Regions from separate parts of the Homo sapiens genome. Here region 1 is reported to be linked to region 2. Evidence: microRNA targets listed by miRTarBase, many of them from high-throughput screens and not tested one by one. Region 2 holds a microRNA gene; the other region holds the end of a gene's coding sequence.

Region 1 (7,124 bases), not on the chromosome of region 2:
CTTTTTGATGCCTCTCTCGTCAGTTTCCTATTCTTTGCTGAACCTGCTAGTGAGGTCACTGCCTGCATCCCACCAATGTCCTCTTCTTGCCAGAGAGAAGCTTGGGGGAATTTCTCAAAGTCTCCTTCCTTACCTCTTTCACAAAAAGATTTACTCATTAACCATTCAGACATTTTCTTGAGTTTTCCTTCCCACATTTATTACTGATTGGAGGCTTTAAGACAAAAAGTTTCAAAAGCTAAGTTTCTGAAACAAGGTGGCAGTAAACCTAAGTTTTTTTGTTGGTTTGTTTTGTTTTTTCCTACCTGCAGATTTAGAGTCCGAGGCGCTGTCTCCCAGACATACCCTTCAGGTACCTGTGCATATATACAACGAGGAGCTGTTTATGCGGAAAACTGCATTTTAGCTGCCTTCAGTATATGTCAGAAGAAGGCAAACCTAAGAGCACAGTGAATTTGAAGGCTCTGGAAGAAAAGAAAAAAGTCTTTGAGTTTTATTCTGGAATTTAAGCTATTCTTTGTCACTTGGGTGCCAAACATGAGAGCCCAGAAAACTGTCATTTAGCTGGCTGCAGAACTCCTTTGCAGAAACTGGGGTTCCAGGAGCCTGGCACCTTTATGTCAACATTTTTGATTCTAGCTACCTGTATTATTTCACCTAGCTTGTCCCAAGCTTCCCTGCCAGCCTGAAGTCCATTTTCCCCTTTTTATTTTAAAATTTGACTCCTCTTCAAGCTTGAAAACCCTCTGAACTCAGTCTTCTTTACCTCATTATCACCTTCCCCTCACACTCCTAAAATTGCATGAAAGACAGAACATGGAGAACTTGCTCAAGTGCAGGCAGAGAGCAAAAAGGGGAAATATGTCTGGGAAAAAGTGCACGTGAAGAAACAAAGAAGGACAGAGGCCATTCCGAAATCAAGAAACTCATGTTCTTAACTTTAAAAAAGGTATCAATCCTTGGTTTTTAAACTGTGGTCCATCTCCAGACTCTACCACTTACGGACAGACAGACAGACAGACACACACACACACACACACACACATTTTGGGACAAGTGGGGAGCCCAAGAAAGTAATTAGTAAGTGAGTGGTCTTTTCTGTAAGCTAATCCACAACCTGTTACCACTTCCTGAATCAGTTATTATTTCTTCATTTTTTTTTCTACCAGAGGACAGATTAATAGATTTAACCCTTCACAACAGTTCTTGTTAGAATCATGGGATGTGTGGCCCAGAGGTAAGAATAGAATTTCTTTCCCTAAAGAACATACCTTTTGTAGATGAACTCTTCTCAACTCTGTTTTGCTATGCTATAATTCCGAAACATACAAGACAAAAAAAATGAAGACACTCAATCTAGAACAAACTAAGCCAGGTATGCAAATATCGCTGAATAGAAACAGATGGAATTAGAAATATATCTTCTATTTTTAGGCTTCTATTTCCTTTCCACCCACTCTTCACAGGCTATTCTACTTTAAAGGAAGCCTTTTTATTTTGCTGCACACAATCTAGCAGGAATCTTTTTTTTTTTTTAAGAGCTGTGTCATCCTTATGTAGGCAAGAGATGTTTGCTTTTGTTAAAAGCTTTATTGAGATATAATTAACATAAAATAAACTGAACATATTTAAAGTGTACTATTTGATAAGTTTTCACACCTTGTGGAGAACATGCATACTACAATTAAGAGAGTGAACATATCCATCATCCCTCAAAGTGTCACAATGCTCCTCCTGATGACTCCTCCCCAGAAAACCACCAATCGGCTTTCATTTTGCATTTTGTAGTTTTATGTGAATGGAATCATATAGTATGTCTTTTTTTTTTGTCTGGCTTCTTTCACTTTGCATAATTATTTTGAGATTCATATGTCTCCATCTTGATGCTCGTATGAATTCATTCTTTTAAATGTTGAATATTCCCTTGTATGGATATACCACAATTCATTTACCCATTTACTTGTTGATGACATTTGGGTTGTTTTAGTTTTGGGATATTACAAATAAAGCTGCTGTGAACATTTGTGTACAAGTCTGTATGAACATAGGATTTCTTTTCTCTTGGTTAAATACTTAGGAGTATAACGTCTGGATCACACAGTAGGTGTATGATTAACTATTTAGGAAACTGACAAACTCTTTTCCAAAGTTGTACCATTTTTCATTCCTACCAGCAGTGTATGAGTGCTCCAGTTCCATCTCATCCATGCCAGAATTTCATATGGTTCGTCTTATAGTTTTAATGATTCTAGTAGATATCGAATGGTATATCCTCATAGTTTTAATCTGTGTATCCTACAAATTTCTGTTTGTTGGTTTGTTTTTGAGACAGAGTTTCGCTCTTGTTGCTCAGGCTGGAGTTCAGTGGCACAATCTCAGCTCACTGCAACCTCCGCCTCCTGGGTTCAAGCAATTCTCCTGCCTCAGCCTCCCAAGTAGCTGGGATTACCGGCGCCCGCTACCACTTCCAGCTAATTTTTGTATTTTTAGCAGAGACGGGGTTTCACCATGTCGGCCAGACTGTTCTCAGACTCCTGACCTCAGGTGATCCACCCACCTCAGCTTCTGAAAGTGCTGGGATTACAGGCGTGAGCCACCGCCCCAGGCAAATTTTTATAAGCTTATTTACCATCTGTATTAGGTAACTTTGATAAAGTAACTGTATAAATCTTTTGAGAATTTTTACTTGGTTTATTTTTCTTACTGTTGAGTTTGAGAACTTTATATATTTGGGATAAAAACCTTTTATCAGATATGCATCTTGAAATGTTTTTCTTGTCTTGTCTTTTTTTTTTTTTTTTTGAGAGGGAGTCTCACTCTGTTGCCCAGGCTGGAGTAGTGCAATCCCAGCTTACTGCAACTTCCGCCTCCCAGGTTCAAGTGATTCTCCTGCCTCAGCCTCCCAAGTAGCTGGGATTACAGGTGCCCACCACCATGCCTGGCTAAGTTTTTGTATTTTTAGTAGAGATGGGGTTTCACCATGTTGGCCAGGCTGGTTTTGAACTCCTGACCTCAAGTGATCTGCCTGCCTTGGCCTCCCGAAGTACTAGGATTACAGGTGTGAGCCACCGCCCAGCCTGTCTTTTCATTCTTTGAACAATATACTCATAAAGCAGAAGTTTTTTATTTTAATGAAGTCCATTTTTATTATTCTGCTGTGGTTTGTAAGAACTCATTGACTAACTCAAGGTCACAAAAATTTTCTCCTTTATTTTTTTCTAGACATTTTATAGCTTCAGGTTTTATACTGAGGTCTATGATTTATTTGGGATTAATTCGACAAATGTAAATTTGTCGAAAAGACTATTTTTCTTTACTAAATTGCTTTTGCACCTTTATCACCAATCAGTTGTCTGTATATTCATGGGATTATTTCTAAACTCTCTATTTTATTCCACTGATTGTTGTATTTTTGTATTTGCGTATTTATACACCACCACCACATTATTTTGAATACTGTAGTTTTATAATAAATCTTAAAATCATGCAGTGACAGTCCTTCAAATTTATTTTTCTTTTGCAAAGTTACATTGGCTGAGCTATGTCACTATATTTTCCATATTGATTTTTGAATTGGCTCACTAATTTCTACAAAAACTCTTTTGGAATTCTGATTGTGATTACATTGAATCTACAAATCGATTTGGGCAGAATTGAAACCTTAAAAATATTGATTTTTCTGACTCTTGAATAAAGTATGTCTCTGCATTTATTTAGGTATTTTAAAATTTCTCTGAGCAATGTTTTGCAGTTTTCTCTTACAGATATTTTTACATATTTTGTTAGCTTACCATATATACTTCATAGTTTCGACGCTACTGTACATGGGAATTATCATTGATAATTTTAATTTCCAACTGTTTATTGCTAGTATGGAGAAATATAATAGACTTTTAAATATTCACCTTATATTCTGAAACCTTGATAAACTTATTTGTTTCTTCTAGTAACTTTTTTTGTAGATGTCATCAGATTTTCTACACAAATAATCATTCTGTGTGCCAGCGGAAGCACTTCTATCTTTTCCTTTCCAATGCTTTTATTCTTTTCCTTGCCTGAACCTCCCGTTCAATGAGAAATAAAAGTAGTGAGAACAATATCCTTATTTTGAAATTGATCTTGAGAAGAGATCATTCAGTGTTGCACCACTAAGTATGGTGTAAACTGTAGATGTTTCATAGACGTCCTTAATCAGTTTTAGGAAGTTCCCTTTTGTTCCTTGCATTCTTAGAGGACTGATCAGGAATAGGTGTTAATTTTGTCTAATATTTTTCTACATCTATTGAGATGATTATATATACATTTTTATTTTAAAAATATCTAGTATTTTCTTTGTTTTTTTTTAGGTTAAAAATTTCTAGTCTTTTAACATGAATTACACTCATTAATTATATAAGGTTAAAACAATTTAGGATTGCATTATATTAATGGATTAGATCTGTTATATGTATTATATTATGGGTTATTTCTGTTAAAATTTGGCTTAGAATGTTTGCAACTATATTTATGGGTTTTTTGTTTCTGTTCATTTTGTTCTGGTTTTTTAGAGGTAGAGTCTTACTCTGTTGCCCAGGCTGGACTGCAGTGGCACGACCACAGGTCACTGAAGCTTTGACCTCCCAGGCTGAAGTGATCCTCCTGCCTCAGCCTCCAAAGTAGCTGGGACAACGGTGACCACAGGCATGCACCATCATCCCCAGCTAATTATTTTAATTTGAGAGAAAGAGACAGGCTCTTCTTATGTTGCCCTGGCTGGCCTTGAAGTCCCAGGTTCAAGTGATCCTCCTGCCTCGGCCTCTCAAAGTGTTGGGATTACAGGTGTGACCCACCATGCCTGGCCAGTACTTTTTTTTTTTTTTTTGAGGTGGAGTTTTGCTCTGTCGCCCAGGCTGGAGTGCAGTGGCGCGATCTTGGCTCACTGCAACCTCTGTCTCCCGGGTTCAAGCGATTCTCCTGCCTTGGCCTCCTGAGTAGCTGGGATTACAGGCACCCCCCACCATACTCAGCAAATTTTTGCATTTTTAGTAGAGATAGGGTTCCACCATGTTGGCCAGGGTGGTCTCGAACTCCTGACCTCAGGTGATCTGCCCGCCTAGGCCCCCAAAGTGCTGGGATTACAGGTGTGAGCCACCGTGCTTGGCCATGGCCAGTATTTTTAAACATAGTTTTCTTTTCTCTTTATGACTTTGCCTTATTTGAATATCAGATAAATATTTCTCAATGTCAATTTTTCTGGAAGATTTGGTTTAGAATTAGTACTATTTCTTCATTAAATGTTTGATACAATTTACCCTTGAAGTCATCTGGGCATAGGGTTTTCTTTGTAGTAAGGTTTTCAACTACAGATTCAGTTTCTTTTTTTTCTTTTTTTTGAGACGGAGACTTGCTTTGTCGCCCAGGCTGCAGTGCAGTGGCACCATCTCGGCTCACTGCGACCTCCGCCTCCCGGGTTCAAGCGATTTTCCTGCCTCAGCCCCCAAGTAGCTGGGATTACAGGCGCGAGCCACCATGTCCCTCTAATTTTTGTATTTTAGTAGGGGCGGGGTTTCACCATGCTGGCCAGGCTGGTCTCGAACTCCTGACCTTGTGATCCGCCCGCCTCAGCCTCCCAAAGTGCTGGGATTACAGGCGTGAGCCACCGCACCCGGCCAGATTCAGTTTTTTTTAGATGTTGAGCTGTTCAAAGGATTCCTTCTTCAATGAGCTTTGGTGGTTACTTTCAAGGAATTTATGAGCTTCATCTAAGTTGTTTAATTTATTGGCATACCATTTTTAAAAATTATTTGAATATCTGTAGAATCTTTAGCATTGCCACTTCCTTCCTGACAGTGTTAATTGTATCTTTTTTTTTTAAAACTAATCGGCTTAGCTAGAGATTTATCAATTTCATTTTTCTTCTCAAAAAAGCTATTTGGTCAACAGAGACAAGATGGCCAAATAGACGCAGACAGGAAGCACCACTCCCGCTGACAGAAAGGGAGACCGGGAACCCTTTCAGGTTCTGGAACACCAGTGCCAGTTCCTGGCCCTGAACAACCCTTGGCAAGGCAGCCCACTCTTGCTGTGGACCTCTAGGATTCCAGCCACAAGAGATCCTACACTCCCCATAAACATTCGAACTGGCATGGGGATATGCCCTACAAGCAGGCAGAGGCAGAACTCCAGCCTGCATAGAGCCCGGTTTTTGTTGTTGTTGTTGTTTGTTTGTTTGTTTTGCGTTGGGGGCAGTTCCAGTGGAACATGGCCATGCGCACCCATCCCCCAAGGCTCTCCGTCCTCTTCCGAATAACTCTAACCCCACTGACTGCCGCGCAAAGAGAACAGCAGGGTCGACTTTCCCTTCGGAGTGGGGCACTTCTGTTCCGCAGGACCTCCTGCCCTCCAGCCCCTCTCAAGTCCTCTGCCTGGCCGCTCTAGGAGCCTGTCAACGGTGCAGACTCCACTGCCCATCCTGGGTGCTTTGCAGGCCGACATGCCTGACTGAGTTCTTTCCCAGCCGCTTGGGAGCAGTTCCGAGGCCCCGTCGCAGCCCGTGCCGGAACCTGGGGTGCAGGATGGCGGATGTGCTGGCTGGGGCCAAAGCCCTGGGCTGCGGCGTGCAGCGCCGCAGTGCGGGACCCAGATTCATGGCCTGCGCTCCAGCGGGCAAGGAGTCCCGAGTCTCAGAAAACCGAGGGAGTGATATGCCCAGATTAGGGGCAGGCGCGGAAGGTCTGCCAGCCATGGGTGTCCGCCTGAGGGAGCTGCCCAGCCCGGACAGCCTAGCAAAGGAAATGCGGGAATGACGATAGTGACTGGAGAGGACTCTCCGAAGGCTTGAGAGCGGAGCTGGTGGGGTCAGCTCCCCGCGCTGGGCCACACCACAGGACGTTGTTGCGAGCTCGCTGAAACGTAAAAACCCGCAGCGCTGGCCGTTACTCTTATGCGCCATCTGCTGGATGATAGCCCAAATTACACCAAAAATATTCTGCCAATATATTAAATATTGGTCTGTGAAACTCAGGGCAAGAATCCAGCCACAAAGATCTTGTACAGAGCCTTGGCCCTCTGACAGCACTCATAAATGAAGCAAATGACTATATTCAACTTACACCACAGTTAAAGGAATACCAGCCCTCTCAGAA
Region 2 (7,124 bases):
GAGTCTAAATCTCAGTGTCTATAAATAAAGTCGTATTGGAACACAAACCCACTAATTCATTTATGCCTAGCCTATGGCTGCTAGCATACTACAATGGCAGGGGTGAGTAACTGCAATAGCGGTTGTGTGGCCCATAAGCCTAAAATATTTACAATCTACTTCTTTATAGAAAAAGCTTGTCAATCTCTGGTATAAAACAAAAAGAAACAGGCTCTAGGTAAGCCTGTGGGGGTTCTGCTCTAACTAAGTGATAATCATGGTCTTTGAGATGAAAAGGCACAGGTTTTGGAGTGGCACAGAGCCACAGTTGAGTTCCTAAGCAGGAATTTAACAGGAGGGTGAAAGTGGAGCTCACTTCTCATCAGAAAAATGCATGTAACCACTATTAAAGAGGCTGTTAGAGAAACTAAATGAACAGTGTGTGTGAGGTGCCCGGCCCAGAGTCTGGCACATTGTGGGTATTCACATATCTTGTTCCCATCCATATGGAATTTATTAATCTAAAGGCCTCCTGGTTAACAGCAAGAAATTCAGTGATACAACCATAAAAAGTGCCATATTTAGAAGTAGCCTATGGCCAGCCTATGGTGGCTAGCACACTACAATGGCAGGGGTGAGAAACTACAACAGAGGCTGTGTGGACCACAGCCTAAAATATTTACTATCGACTTCTTTATAGAAAAATCTTGCCAATAAGACAAAAAGAAAGGCTCTAGGTAAGATACAGGCAAGGCAGAATATTAAATTGTAAACCAAATTTGTCTTTAAATCTTTTTGCAGCATATGTATTTTATACCACATTTCCCATTAATTTACAATAAAAATGACGTACGATAGTGGCACACTTTCATGGGTGCTTTAAAAAGTTTCTATTGCTTTTAGGTCGGGTGCGGTGGCTCACGCCTGTAACCTCAGCACTTTGGGAGGCTGAGGTGGGCGGATCACCTGAGTTCAGGAGTTTGATACCAGCCTGACCAACATGGTGAAACCCTGTCTCTACTAAAAATACAAAATTAGCCAGGCATGGTGGCACATGCCTGTAATCCCAACTACTAGGAAGGCTAAGGCAGGAGAATCACTTGAACCCAGGAGGCAGAGGTTGCAGTGAGCCGAGATCACACCATTGCACTCCAGCCTGGGCAACAAGAGCAAAACTCCATCTCAAATAAATAAATAGATAAGTAAATAAAAAGTTTATACTGCCTTTGTAAATGACTAGCGTAGTCTCCTGAGTGAGAAGAGAGAAAAAAACCTGGTGAGACATCCTGGAGATGGCATTTCTTTTCCCTCCTCCACGTTTGCCTCACCCTAGCCAGTCCTGAGTCAATCTTTTTATTTACTTCTCTCATGGAATCCAGCCCCAAACCCAGCTCATACCAAGTCCTCAATAAATGCTTGGTAAGTAGATGAGTAAATGAATAAAATTTCTATAGATTCAACTGTAGGATGATGAACTTCATTTATTTATTTATTTGTTTATTTATTATTTAACCATGAGAATGAAAACCAGGAAGGATGCTGAATTTCTGTCATCTAAGTATAAATATGTGATATATATTACCAAAACTCAACTTGTCTACCTCCATAGTCAGCATGCATTGTTGGTAAAGTGCCAAGTATACATATTTTAATAGGGCATTACAGGCCAGACTGTCTCTGTTGTGACTACTTAACTCCATCATTATAGTGTGAAAAAAGCCACTGACAATACAGAAACAAATGAGTGTCTATAAACCTGTATTTGTGGACACTGAAATATGAATTTCATAGAATATTTTAATAAAATTTTCTTAGGTGTTTTTTCAACCTTTAAAAAGTGAACACCTTTTTTAGCTTGTAGACCATACACAACTAGCTGGTAGGCCAGATTTGACCCATGCGCCATAGTTTTCTGACCACATGCATCAAATGTTTTAGTACATCTACAATGCTTTAAAATAGTACCTGCTTGATGAACTTTATGAAGTTAATATTTATGAAAAAATATATAAAAGGCAAATACCACAAAGATTTCAGAACTGCTAAATTAATGCAGGGTTATGCTTTGCCATTGGTGAGTACTGTCTTTTAAAGAGTTTTATTTTTTACTGATGTATACTGCACAAAAGCAAAGTAGGGCTGGGCACAGTGGCTCACGTCTGTAATCCCAGCACTTTTGGAGGCCGAGGCAGGCAGATCACTTGAGGTCAAGAGTTTGAGACCAGCCTGGCCAACATGGTGAAACCCCATCTCTACTAAAAATGTAAAAATTAGCCGGGCATGGTGGTGAGCACCTGTAATCCCAGCTACTCAGGAGGCCGAGGCAGGAGAATCACTTGAACCCAGGAGGCAGAGGTTGCAGTGAGCTGAGATCAGCCCCCTGCCCTCCAGCCTGGGTGACAGAATGAGACTCTGTCTCAAAAAAAAAGAAAAAAAAGCAAGTAGAAATACCTATTATTCTTTATAAAGTTCTATTTTCAACCCCCAGTCAGCATAATTCAAGCCAGGAATTTAAAGACAGAATGTGCATGCCAATTTCTTTAAGCATTGAAAATCAACATTCTTCAAACAGCTTAAAGCAACATTTGCAGGGCTAAAAATTGGGTTTGATAGGATTTTTAAAGAGATATTACTCAAGACCTAAATATAATCTTTTGTAGAGATTAGAGAAGAATAATACAGAAGCCTCAGATTCAAATAACATTTACTGAGGTCCTTTTCTTTTCCTTTTTTTTTTTTTTGAGACAGAGTCTCACTCTGTCACCCAGGCTGGAGTGCAGTGGTGCAATCTCAGCTTACTGCAACTTCTGCCTCCTGGGTTCAGGCGATTCTCCTGCCTCAGCCTCCCGAGTAGCTGGGATTACAGGCATGCGCCACCATGCCTGGCTAATTTTTCGTATTTTTAGTAGAGACAGGGTTTCACCATGTTGGCCAGGCTGGTCTTGAACTCCTGACCTACTGAGGTCCTGTTCTGTTCTAGTGCTCTTATATTCAAAAAGCAACAGGCAATGGCGATGGCAGAGAGGAGGAAAAATGATGTAGGAAATGAAGTGACCTATCCAAGCCCCAAAGCTAAGGAAGCGGAGGAAGTATCCAGAGTCAGACTTCTGCCTCCTGGTCCAGTTCTCGTTTTAGGACATTATGATCCCTTGCCTTCTCTAAGGCTTAATGAGCCAGATCTGCTGAGAGAAAGAATCATACCATAGCCTGTGAAGTCTGCATCTGTTGAATGGTATGATGAAGCTGGTGCTAATGGTATCTCTTGTGAACTGAAGGAGACTTTTGTTGGATATTTTTGCTGTTTCATCTGGCTGACAGCCTACAAAAGAAAGGAAAATTAGATGAATATCAAAAAGGAGAAAGGTAACAAGAAAATACTTTAAAACTGGTGTATTGTTACCAAAACAATGGTGCAGTCCAATGATGTCTTTTGAGAATATAAGGTTGGAGGGTGGCAAGAAGTTAGGATGATTTATGCCTCGTTCCTCATTCTTCCCTATTTAACTTTACAACTAAAATGCTTTGATGAAGGGCAGATCAAGGAAGGGAGGAAAGATAAAAGCTGAAGATACTCTGTCAGTGTGATCTGTACATGAAGCTGGGGGTGGGAGGCAAAACAAAAATTATCTTGCAATTTCTACTCATTCTGATGAAATCAGCAAGAAGCCCCTTTATCTATGGACTTTGAAGTGACTTATCTGTGTTGTGCACATTGAAAAACAATCTACGCTGGGGATGTTTAGAGCATCAACACTGTCCATTTCTTCTGGACACACTAGAGTCAAAGATGCATTTGGTAGGTTAATTAAGCAAAATGAGGGGCAGACAAAGAAAACCAACACCTACTGAAAGCCTACTAAATGCCAGCTACATCAGTGACATTTAATTCACATAAAGGAAGCATAGCTCCTTTATTGAGTCCCTACTATGTTCCAGGCACCTACGATACCCAGTGCCTGGAACATAGTAGGGACTCAATAAAGTGCTTGATGAATGAATGAACAAGAAAGAAAGAACAAAGAAAAGCAAAACTGAAGACATGAGTAACTCAGGGTAGAAAGTGAACTTGCAATTCAGTGAAGGTACAGGGACCTCTACTGTGTGAGTTTGGGAAAAATTAACTTGTAATTCTGGATTTTTGCTGACAGTACCTCCAATGAATATTAATATTAAAAAACTAAGGGGCCAGGCATGGTGGCTCACGCCTGTAAACCCAGCACTTTGGGAGGCTGAGATGGGCAGATCACCTGACATCAGGAGTTCGAGACCAGCCTGGCTAACATGGTGAAACCCCATCTCTACTGAAAAAAATACAAAAATTAGCCAGGCGTGGTGATGCATGCCTGTAATCCCAGCTACTTGGGAGGCTGAGGCAGGAGAATTGCTTGAACCCAGGAGGCAGAGGTTGCAGTGAGCTGAGACCGTGCCATTGCACTCCAGCCTGGGCAACAAGAATGAAACTCCGTCTCCAAAAATAAATACATACATACATACATACACTAAGAAAAACCAAAAGGACTCCTTGCTTATTTAACAGGCAGTTAAGAAATATAGGTAGTAACCTGACCTGCCTTCTGGATCTGCAGTTGGCCAGGGAACCCATCCCCAGCTGGAAGAGTCTGGTAGTGAAGCACCAGGTTGCCCCTGGAGTCTAGAAATAGGACCAAGGTAACTGCTCCAGAACTGTAACACCTCAAGATTCTGTCAGTGGAAAGCTGTGCCTCAATACAGGGCATTGTGCAGTGTGCAGTAACAACAAAACAATACCATCCATTGTGCATATGCACTGTGCTTTCTAGTTTTCAAAACACTTTTACATCCATAAATTCATTCAATCACATGAACAACCCCGACAGTTAAATATTACTTTTTTTCTTTTTGCAGAAAACCAAGCATAAATGTCAAGTGACATATTTGAAATCACACTGCTAATTAGAGAAAGAGGTAGAACCGGAAGTCAATAGTTGAAGAATGCTACAAGCTTAAAGTGTTTATCAAACAGCTGATAGGCAATGATTCTATGGAGTTTTTTTGTTTTTTCCTGCAGTTTTTCTATCACCATCTTCTTTTTTTTTTTTTTTTGGACAGGGTCTCACTCTGTCACCTAGGCTGTAATAGTTGTGTGATCTCGGCTCACTGAAGCCTTGATGTCCTGGGCTCAGGTGATTCTCCCACCTCAGCCTCCTGAATACCTGGGATTACAGGCGCACACCACCACGCCTGGCTAATTTTTTGTATTTTTAGTAAAGATGGAGTTTTGCTATGTTGCCCAGGCTGGTCTCGAACTCCTGGACTCAAGCAATCCACCCACCTCAGCATCTCAGAGTGCTGGGATTACAGGCATGAGCCACTGTGCCCCGCCACTATCAGCATCATTTAATATTGACTAAAAAGAGACTTTTTCAATTACATATTTATCAGTGATTTTTAAAGGAAGAAAGTAGAAAAGGACAAATAAGGGGTTACTATAAGAAAACAACATTGAGAGGACTTAGATATCCAATTATTCTAAGGACCACATTTACTAGCCTCATTGAAGGTAGGTGTGCCAACAGGCTAAGTCCTGGTCAATGGGATGTAAACAGAAGTGAATGTACAATTTTTAGGTCATTCTCCTAAGGAGAAAGATCCTGTCTTTCCCTTCTCACTGCTTGGAATACAGATGTGTTGGTAATAACTGAAGCAGCCCTCTTAAACTAAAGAATGGATGCCACCATTTGAGGGTGGTAGAGTAATCAAATAAGAATGGTATAGTAATCAGATAAGAGGTGCTTGGGTCTCTGACACTTTGGAGACACCATATCATTCCCCAACTGACCACACACAGCCACACACAGACTCTTATGCTAAAGAGAACTTCTTGCAGCAATTGAGCCTGTGTCTTAACTCACACAGTACTTACCTCCAACTTACATTTTATATCACCTCAAGAAAGAACATGGATTCCCAACAAAGCTGGGTGCAAGCCGCAGAGTTCTTTTATGAAAAATCACGCGACTTTTAAAATAAGAAAGCACTAAAGAGAGCAATCTAGATTACTAAATTACGACTTTTCTATAGCATGAGATGATTGTTGCTTTTCTTTATATCCCAGTTTCATGTAGCATCTGGTGCATAATAGGTCCCTGATAGATACTGGTGGAATTGAATTCAATTTAACAATAAGGAAGCAGTCCATAGAATCCAAGTGAAATGTCCAAACATATATACATAGAGGCTGGCCTCCAGTTGTCGGTATGTGTGGTGATGGATGAAGGAGTGTTCCCATGACTCATTCATTGGCACAAAACCAAACTACTGTGTAAGAAAGATCAGAAAGAATGGATTTGCTGTTGTATGTTACTGTATTATAAGAACTGAGATGGACTTTATAGGTCATCCAACCTAACTAAACCTGTGGTTTTCAACCCTGTTTCATAATAGGAACACCTACGGAGCTTTTAAAAATTACAGATGCTAGGATCCCCATCGCAGGCAAAATAAATTAGCATCTAGGGGTGTGGGTCCCAGGCAGGTTTTTTTTGTTTTTTGTTTTTGTTTTTAATTGAGACTTATTGATTAAGACTTAATCTTCTTTTAAGAAGCCCTGGCTTAAGAATCCATGGTTTAACTTTAAACGATGTCTCAAAAACAAAACAAAACAAAACAAAACTTGCCTGGGATCCACATCCCTAGATGCCAGTTTATTTGGTCTGGGATGGGGGTCCTAGCATTCGTGATTTTTTTTAAAGCTCTCTAGGTGTTCCTATTATAAAACAGGGTTAAGAACCACTGGTTTAGTTGTAAAACACCCTTGTAGTTGTATCAAAATTGTACTTGTCAGTGTTTTTCTTTTCTTTTTTTTTTTTTTTGAGACGGAGTCTCGCTCTGTTGCCCAGGCTGGAGTGCAGTGGCGCGATCTCTGGTCACTGCAAGCTCTGCCTCTCGGGTTCACATCATTCTCCTGCCTCAGCCTCCCGAGTAGCTGGGACTACAGGCACCCACCACCACGCCTGGCTAATTTTTTGTATTTTTAGTAGAGACGGGGTTTCACCGTGTTAGTGAGAATGGTCTAGATCTCCTGACCTTGTGATCCACCCATCTCGGCCTCCCAAAGTGCTGGGATTACAGGCGTGAGCCACTGCGCCCGGCCCTTGTCAGTGTTT

Evidence for each region. The annotated mature microRNA hsa-miR-3116 reads UGCCUGGAACAUAGUAGGGACU and lies in region 2 at 3,897-3,918, opposite strand. An mRNA with a match to its seed (bases 2 to 7 or 8) in the 3' UTR can be bound and repressed. Matches are read on the target gene's strand: a 7mer-m8 pairs with bases 2 to 8, a 7mer-A1 pairs with bases 2 to 7 and ends in A, and an 8mer does both.
Region 1: miRTarBase lists OLR1 as a target of hsa-miR-3116. The part of its 3' UTR that is shown has no 7-base or 8-base seed match.

What each region holds. Positions count from the first base shown.
Region 1 is chr12:10,153,209-10,160,332 of GRCh38, reverse strand. It overlaps OLR1 (oxidized low density lipoprotein receptor 1), which reads left to right. Exons shown (of 6, transcript NM_002543.4): 6 at 312-2,032. The coding sequence ends at 453. Among named protein-coding and RNA genes, the nearest start is that of OLR1, 15 kb to the left of the region's middle. RefSeq lists enhancers at 6,400-6,589, 6,600-6,689, 6,544-7,047.
Region 2 is chr1:62,075,624-62,082,747 of GRCh38, reverse strand. It overlaps MIR3116-1 (microRNA 3116-1), which reads right to left and starts at 3,962; the gene lies at 3,889-3,962. PATJ (PATJ crumbs cell polarity complex component) reads right to left here. Exons shown (of 44, transcript NM_001350145.3): 32 at 3,181-3,298. It overlaps MIR3116-2 (microRNA 3116-2), which reads left to right and starts at 3,892; the gene lies at 3,892-3,959.